3 separate regions of the Homo sapiens genome follow, and regions 1 and 3 are each linked to region 2. Evidence: fine-mapped expression QTL. A gene starts in region 2. Each other region holds a variant in brackets. All regions are shown on one strand. Distances are from middle to middle.

The links.
Region 1: its variant is fine-mapped to the expression of ERFE in whole blood (TOPMed, PIP above 0.99).
Region 3: its variant is fine-mapped to the expression of ERFE in whole blood (TOPMed, PIP above 0.99).

What each region holds. Positions count from the first base shown.
Region 1 is chr2:238,211,611-238,214,366 of GRCh38, reverse strand. No RefSeq gene overlaps it. Among named protein-coding and RNA genes, the nearest start is that of ILKAP, 9.3 kb to the right of the region's middle. The variant C/T (reference allele first, on the strand shown) is at 1,635.
Region 2 is chr2:238,157,496-238,160,251 of GRCh38, reverse strand. ERFE (erythroferrone) reads right to left here and starts at 1,282. Exons shown (of 8, transcript NM_001291832.2): 1 at 1,047-1,282. The coding sequence starts at 1,244. RefSeq lists a silencer at 1,235-1,304.
Region 3 is chr2:238,187,667-238,190,422 of GRCh38, reverse strand. It overlaps ILKAP (ILK associated serine/threonine phosphatase), which reads left to right. Exons shown (of 12, transcript NM_030768.3): 4 at 451-570; 5 at 2,166-2,292. Among named protein-coding and RNA genes, the nearest start is that of ILKAP, 15 kb to the left of the region's middle. The variant C/G (reference allele first, on the strand shown) is at 1,656.

The DNA.
Region 1 (2,756 bases), 54 kb before region 2:
TTCCAGCATTTTGGAGGCCAGAGTGGGAGGACTGCCTGAGTCCAAGAGTTCAAGACTAGCCTGGACAACAAAGCAAGAGCCCATCTCTACGGAAAAATAAAAAAATTAGTCAGATGTGATATCACACACCTGTAGTCCCAGCTACTCAGGTGGTTGAGACAGGAGGGTCACTTGAGCCCAAGAGGTCAAGGCTGCAGTGAGCCATGACTGCACCACTGCACTCCAGTCTGGAAAACAGAGCAAGACTGTCTCCAAAAAAGGGTGTGGGGGAGACAGGAAGGAGGGAAAGAAGGAAGAGAAAACCAAAAGCAGCTAGAACACAACAAAATGGCAGGAGTATGTCCTTACTTATCAATAATAACATTGAATGTAAATAGACTAAACACTCCAATCAAAAGACATAGAGTGGCTGAATGGATTAAAAAACAAGACCAAATGGTCTGTTGCCTACATAAAACACTATTCACCTATAAAGACACACATAGACTGAAAATAAAAGGATGGAAACAGATATGCATGGAACTGAAAAAAGAGCAGGAGTAGTGATACTTAGATAAGACGGATTGCAAGACAAAAACTATAAAAAGAGACAACATCACTATATAATGATAAAGGGGTCAACTCAGCAAGAGGATATAGCAATTGTAAATATATATGTACCCAACACTGCAGCATGCAGATCTATAAACCAAACATTATTAGTGCTAAGGACAGTGATAGATTGCAATACAATAACAGCTGGAGGCTGGGCATGGTGGCTCACACCTGTAATCCCAGCACTTTGGGAGGCTGAGGCAGGCAGATCACCTCAGGTCAGGAGTTTGAGACCAGCTGGACCAACAGGGTGAAACCCCATCTCTACTAAAAATACAAAGTTATCTGGGCGTGGTGGCACATGTCTGTAATCCCAGCTACTCGGGAGGCTGAGGCAGGAGAATTGCTTGAACTCAGGAGGCGGAGGTTGCAGTGAGCCAAGATCACAGCACTGCACTCCAGCCTGGGCAACAAGAGCAAAACTCCATCTCAAAAAATAAAAATAAATAAAAAATAAAAAAAAACAACAGATGGAGACTTCAACACCCCACTTTCAGCATTGGACAGATCATCTGAAGAGAAAATCAACAAAGAAACATCACACTTAATCTGCACTACAGACCAAATGGACCTAATAGATATTTATAGAGAATTTAATCCAACAGTTTCAGAATATATTCTTCTCCTCAGCACATGGATCATTCTCAAGGATAGATCACATGTTAGGCCACAAAACAAGAATTAAAGCAGTCAAAGAAATTGAAGTAATGTCAAGTATCTTCTTTGACCCCAAGGGAATAAAACTAGAAATCAATAACAAGAGGAATTCTGGAAACTAGACAAACACATGGAAATTAAACAATATGCTCCTGAATGACCAGTGGATCAATGATGTGATTAAGAAGGAAATTGAAAAATATCTTGAAAGAAATGATAGTGGAAATACAACATACCAAAACCTATAGGATACAGCAAAAGCAGTACCAAGAGGGAATTTTATAGTTATAAGTGCCTTCACTAAGAAAGAAGAAAAACTTCAAGCTGGGGCCAGTGGCTCATGCCTATAATCCCAGAACATTGGGAGGCCAAGGCGGGTGGAT[C/T]ACTTGAGGTCAGGAGTTCAAGACCAGCCTGACCAACACAGTAAAACCCCATCACTACTAAAAATACAAAAAAAAGCCAGGCATGATGGTAGCCACCTGTAATCCCAGCTACCTGGGAGACTGAGGCACAAGAATTGCTTGAACCTGGGAGATGGAGACTGCAGTGAGCCAAGATCATGCCACTGCACTCCAGCCTGGGCGACAGAGCAAGACTCTGTCTCAAAGAAAGAAAGAAAGAAAGAGGCTGGGCACAGAAAGAAAGAAAGAGGCTCACGCCTGTAATCCTAGCACTTTGGGAGGCCGAGGCGGGTGGATCACGAGGTTAGGAGATCGAGACCACGGTGAAACCCTGTCTCTACTAAAAATACAAAAAATTAGCTGGGCGCGGTGGCGGGTGCCTGTAGTCCCAGCTATTTGGGAGGCTGAGGCAGGAGAATGTTGTGAACCCAGGAGGCGGAGCTCGCAGTGAGCCGAGATCGCGCCACTGCACTCCAGCCTGGCGACAGAGTGAGACTCTGTCAAAAAAAAAAAAAAAAAAAAGGAAAGGAAAGAAAGAAAGGAAGGAAGAAAGACTTCAAATAAAGAACCTAGTGATGCATCTTAAAGAAAAGCAAGAGCAAACAAAAGCCAAAGTTAGTACAAGAAAGGAAACAATAAAGATCAGAACAGGAAGAAATGAAATTGGAATGAAGAAGACAATACAAAAGATCAATGAGGTAAAAAGTTGGTTTTTTGAGGCTGGGTGCAGTGGCTCACACCTATAATCCCAGCATTTTGGGAGGCTGAGACAGGTGGATCACTTGAGGTCAGGAGTTTGAGACCAGCCTCGCCAACATGGCAAAAAATCCCATCTCTACTAAAAATACAAAAATTAGCTGGGCATGGTGGCGGGCACCTGTAATTCCAGGTACTCAGGAGGCTGAGGCAAGAGAATCATTTGAACTCGGGAGGCATAGGTTGCAGTGAGCTGAGATCACGCCACTGCACTCTAGCCTGGGCAACAGAGTGAGACTCTGTCTCAAAAAAAAAAAAAAAAAGAAAGAAAAAAAAGAAAAAGTTAAATTACACAAGAGCCCCAGGAAAATCCTGCCCTCTTCTTATCACGCCTCACTGAAGCTATGC
Region 2 (2,756 bases):
TGGTTCCAGCCACAAGGGGTCTCTCAGAAACAAGCCTTGGAGCCTGGGAGGACCTCTGGTGTCACTGTGTCCCCCACAAACAGGGTCCAAGGCCAAAACTCCACCTGGAAGCCCCTGAGCCCCGTCTGCCTCCTGCTGACAGTGCCCTGACATTTGGCTGCTGTGCCCACCTGGGTGGTTTGGCCAACTGCACGGGGAGGGGGTGCCTTCAGTCCCTGGGAAGTGGCTGGGTGTGATGGGGCCGGGATAGAGAACTCTGGGGGACCCCAGGCCTGGCTGCACCCCTGTCCTCTCTAGTAGATGCGTTCCTGGCTCTCCCCTCTACTGCCCCTGAGCATCTTCAGAATAAACAGCACCGGCCGCCCACCCCGGCTTCCCTGGGGCAGCCCTGTCTCCCTGACCCAAGGCCCGGCCACACTGAGGGCTCCTCTGAAGTTCTCCCCTCCTCAGGCCTGGGCCACACCTCCCCAACCGGACCACCCTCTGCTCAGCAGTCCAGGCTCCAAAACCCTGGAGAGGAGGGGGCAGGGCAGAGCTCAAGATCACCCACTCACGGCCAAAAGCCACCTGATCACTTGACTCAAAGCCACATGTCATTCCCCACCCTGCACAGCCCCCCGACCCCAGATCCGCAGGAAAACACTTTTTGTTTTCCAGATAATTGCACCAAATAGATTGGGGGCGGTGGCAGTAATTCGCTTACACTTTTTACAAATGCGTTCTTCCCAATTTCCTCAAATCAAGTTATTTACACTTTATCTATTTCCCAACTTCCTTCTGTCCCAAAAGAAAAGGGGGGTTTCGCCGACCTAGTAGAACCTTGCTTTAAGTCAAACTACCCCAAAGCCAAAGTCAAGGCTGCCCCGCCGGGCTGAGGGCGGCGTCTACACGGCCCTGAGTCTCTGCGGAGCCCCGGAGCCCCGGTGCCAGGCGATGCAGCAGCCCTCGGGGGTGAGGGCGGGCTCGGCCTCCACGTCCGCCTCCCGCCGCCCCGAGCCGGGGCGTGCGGGCGCGGGCTGGGTCTGGAGCGGGCCCGGGCGTCTTACCGGCGGACGAGCGGCCGGCCCCGCGCGGCTCTCCCCGGGGCCCCGGGGCAGCTCGTTCCCGGGCGGCGGCTCCCTGCGGGCGCGGCTCCTCGAGGGCGCCCCAGGCTCCGGGGACCCCAGGCCCGCGGCGGCGGCGGCCAGCAGGCCCGCGTAGACGAGCAGCAGGCGGGCTCCGGCGGGGCGGCGGGCCGGGGCCATGCGGGCGGCGGTTCCCTCGCGGCTCCGAGCGCGGCGTCTCGGACGCCCCGGGCTCCTCGCCTTATAACGCGCTTGAATCCCCCGCCTCGCCCGAGACCGCGCGCCCGCCCGCGCCCCCTCCCGGCTCCCGTGCGCGCTGCATGGGGATGGGGGGAGTGTCCGGGCGGGGGAGGGGGAGTGGGGGAGGGGGCACGGGGAGCGGGGCAGGGCAGGGAGAGCGAGGGGTGTTCCCCTGCTGGGCGCGTCCCCCCTGCAACTCCTGGTTCTGGGATCCCTCCTTCGCGCTGTCCAGCGCTTCTGCTTCCTGGGGAGCGAGGCGCCCCTTCTCCCAGCCCTGGACCCTCGGCCCTCGCGACCCCATTTTCTTTGCGGGGAGCCAGGCGCTGCCTCCTCCCAGACGGCTCGAGGCATCCTTTCTCCCCGCTCTGTCCCCCACGTCCTCTGCAGGGACCCCCGAGGTACCCCCTCCCCATTCTCCTGGCTGCGCCCCGCAAGGCCCAGGCCTCTATGACACAGGTGGAGCAAATCTGAGCCGGGAGACCCTCAGGGCCCCTTCTCAGCGCCCCTTTCCCAGGCGGGAACTCCCCTTTCCAGGCCGCCCTCCGTCCATGGCTGGCGTGCTCTGAGCGCAGGGATTCACTGTTCTTCCCCACCTGTCGCACCTGCCGGGACCCAGAAGACGCAGGGAGCCAAGAAACAACTCAGGACAGCCGCCCTGCCCTGGTGGGGCTGAGCGGGGCCTGGGCTGGGAGAACTGACCCCTATCGTGCCCTAGCGGGGGTGTGGGGGCAGACCAGACCGGAAGCCAGGCTGCCCACCGCCCACCGGAATCAGTGCCCCCAGAGGTGGACCAGACCCTGCAGGCCTCGGAGAAGGTGGCAGAGAGGCCTCTGGGCGGCCCTACCAGGAAAGAGCCAGCCCCAGCCCCACCCTACCCCTGGCTTTGTTATATCGCATGCCCTTTTGACTATCTGCCCCACCACTGGACGCTAAGCCGAGGAGGGTCGCACACTTGGCTCGCTTGCCCCACCCCCGAGGCACCTGCCCCTGGTGGGTACACAGTGCTTTTTGTTAAAGAACGGGAGAAGGCTCCGCTGGAAAAGTACCTTACACTCACACCGAGGGCTGCTGTTCCCGGGGAACTCTTTTGAGAAGAGCCCGCTGGGGAAAGGAGGCCTTACCCTGTCCTGGTTCACAGGATGTGGCAGCAGGGACTGAAAGGGGCACCAGCAGCCGCAGGTGGTGCCCCCCAGGCTTGGGGATGGGCCAAGTTCCGTCCTCAGATGCAAGCTGGCCTTTGTCGCCTGCCTTTTCTGGCCACTCATGCGATGTTCCACCTGGCTGGCCTCATGCCTGGCAGGTGGGGAAACCAGGAAATACTTCATACTTTAGGAAAAGCATGGGATCAGAAGGTAATTATTCCCTGTGATTCCACCCCTTTTCCCATAGGATATGGGAATGGTGTAGAGTTGGGTGGGGAGGACGTTTAAAGAAAAACATACCCTGCCCAGC
Region 3 (2,756 bases), 30 kb before region 2:
TGTATTACAGTTCTTAAAGGCTGCCATTTACCTCATTTTGAGCCTTTTCGAGTACTTGTTACTTTTTGGAACGTGATTAGGATATGTTAGTTTGCTTACAGATTTTGTAAGTGTTTGTTTAACACTAAGAGCCTGTGGATATAAAAACATGTATATGCTACAGGCCAAAAAAAACCATGTATTTTTACCACTGGGAAAAGTCTTTTACAAACCCCTTCAGCAGGGTCAGTTTGACTCAGGGCCTGGATCTTAACTTTATGTTCTCTCACTGTGGGACCCCCCTCCCCCTCCCCGCCAACCATGAAGACACAACTCCTGGGTCTGCCTGTGTCTGCCAGTCCTTGCTTCAAATGACCTTGTCTTTGAGTGCTAGGATGAAGCCCAGTCTACTAGTGACTTTTTCCAACAGTCTACAGCTGTGTTTCTGTCTGGCTTTTACTTTATTTCCAGGTTCTCTTGCCACATCAATATCCCAGATGGTAAAGACTGAAGGGAAAGGAGCAAAGAGAAAAACCTCCGAGGAAGAGAAGAATGGCAGTGAAGAGCTTGTGGAAAAGAAAGTTTGTAAAGGTTTTCAGACAATTTGAAAACAAATGTATTAGACTTCATATTTTAAAACAACCCAGAGCAAAACCAGTTTCAGCTTTCTAATAATACTTTCTTTTTATGTCTGTATTTAAGAAATAAGTAGGGTTCCCTTTTTGCAAATGAATTTCCAAGTTTCTCTGTGCTTTCTCCTACTTTTCATGTACATCTATCTCTGATCCTACCTTTGATCAGATAGGAAACCTACATTTGTTCCTCAAGAGTTAAAAAATACAGGTGGTTTTTTTCTTAGCCTTCTGCAGTGAATGGTTAGTTTTTTGACCACCTAGTCTCTCTCTGACTTCCAATCTTTGTTTGCAGTTTGTCAATTAGTGCTTTGAATTACGTGATTTAGCTTAGTAGGCAGCTTCCCTAAGCCTGGAAAAAGCCGTTGAAATTTGTAGTCAGTTGTGTAACTTGTCAAAGTTAGTGAGGAAGAAAACGAAAAGTATTAACTAAAGAGAATACTTCAGTTGTGGTACTAAAGTATTCTTGAGCTGTGGGATTTTCTTTTTTTCTCTTTTTTTTGAGACAGAGTCTCGCTCTGTCGCCCAGGCTGGAGTGGCACCATCTCGGCTCACTGCAAGCTCCGCCTCCCGGGTTCATACCATTCTACCTCAGCCTCCCGAGTAGCTGGGACTACAGACGCCTGCCACCACGCCTGGCTAGTTTTTTGTATTTTTAGTAGAGACGGGGTTTCACCATGTTAGCCAGGATGCTCTCGATCTCCTGACTTTGTGATCTGCCCGCCTCGGCTTCCCAGAGTGCTGGGATTACAGGCGTGAGCAACCGTGCCTGGCCCGAGCTGTGGGATTTTCATTGACTGCATTGTCCTTTGTCACAGATTACCTCAGTGAAAGCTGTATGATGCAGGCAGAGGTATGTGAAAAAACCCACTTGTAGCTTTGCTGGGAAGATGTCATCTTCAACTTAGCTTGTCACTTCCCAGAAGACAGCTCTTCACAGTGTTCATTTTATTATTTGTCTGGCATTAGGTATCAGAAAATAAGCTTAAATGAGTCTAACCATTAAATGTAAATAGATCTCTGCCTGCATTGGAATCTTTTATC[C/G]TTTTCTTCCTCAGTTGAAGTAAAAGCAGCTGATCTTACTGTTTGTTCAAATTCTTCACCAGCCTTGAGCATGGAAATACATATTTTCAGGGCATCTTAAGGGCTTTTGAGATAAACTCTCCTGACTTGCATTTGTCCTTATTCAATTATCACAAGACTAATTTGCACATGATCCTTTTGCCTGATTTGAATCTCACTTCTCTGGGATGGCAGCACATCCCTTGCCCTGATGCTTTGACTTACACCCTAGACAGAGTTGTTTTGTGCTCACTGACTCCTCTTTTGTGTCCCTGTGCAACCTCTTAGAGCTCACCCTGTCCAACAGTGCTCCGATTTGAGTTATAGACTTGCAGCTGGGGGAGATGCCTTAAGGGGTATTGCTTATTTGTTTGCGCCATTAGGATATTGCTGAGTCAGACAGTCATAGTTCCCTCTCATTTGCTCTGGGACTAGGGTTTCCAGAGGGTTGGGCACAGTTTTGTATTGGCTCTTTTGTTCTCTTTTCCTTAGCCTCTTCGGTGATCTTTGGTCTGAAGGGCTATGTGGCTGAGCGGAAGGGTGAGAGGGAGGAGATGCAGGATGCCCACGTCATCCTGAACGACATCACCGAGGAGTGTAGGCCCCCATCGTCCCTCATGTGAGTCTCATGTGGTAGGAAGCCCGGCTGGCATTAACATCTCCTGGGTTCTGACTGGCATTTTGGACTGGCTAGTTTGTATTTACTAGAAAATCTAACACATCACTTGATTGTACATCAGTGATTCTCAGCTGGGGTTGATTTTGCTCCCCGCCCAGGGGACATTTGTCAGTGTTTGGGTACATTTTTGTCACAACTGCGGGAGGGAGTTGTTACTGGCATCTGGTGGGTAGAGACTAGGGATGCTGGTAAACATCTTAGAAGCACAGGGCAGCCCCACAACAAAGAATTGTTCAGCCTGGAATGTCAGTAGTGTCGCGGTTGAGCAGCCCTGCTGAGCGGGAGATGACGCTTCATAGCATGGCTCTGCAGCGTGTGTTACTCCTTACCAGCAACTGAGCGGCTTCTGGCAGAGAATATTTTTAATCCATGACCTAGAAGATAAGAGTTGGAAGCCACTAATT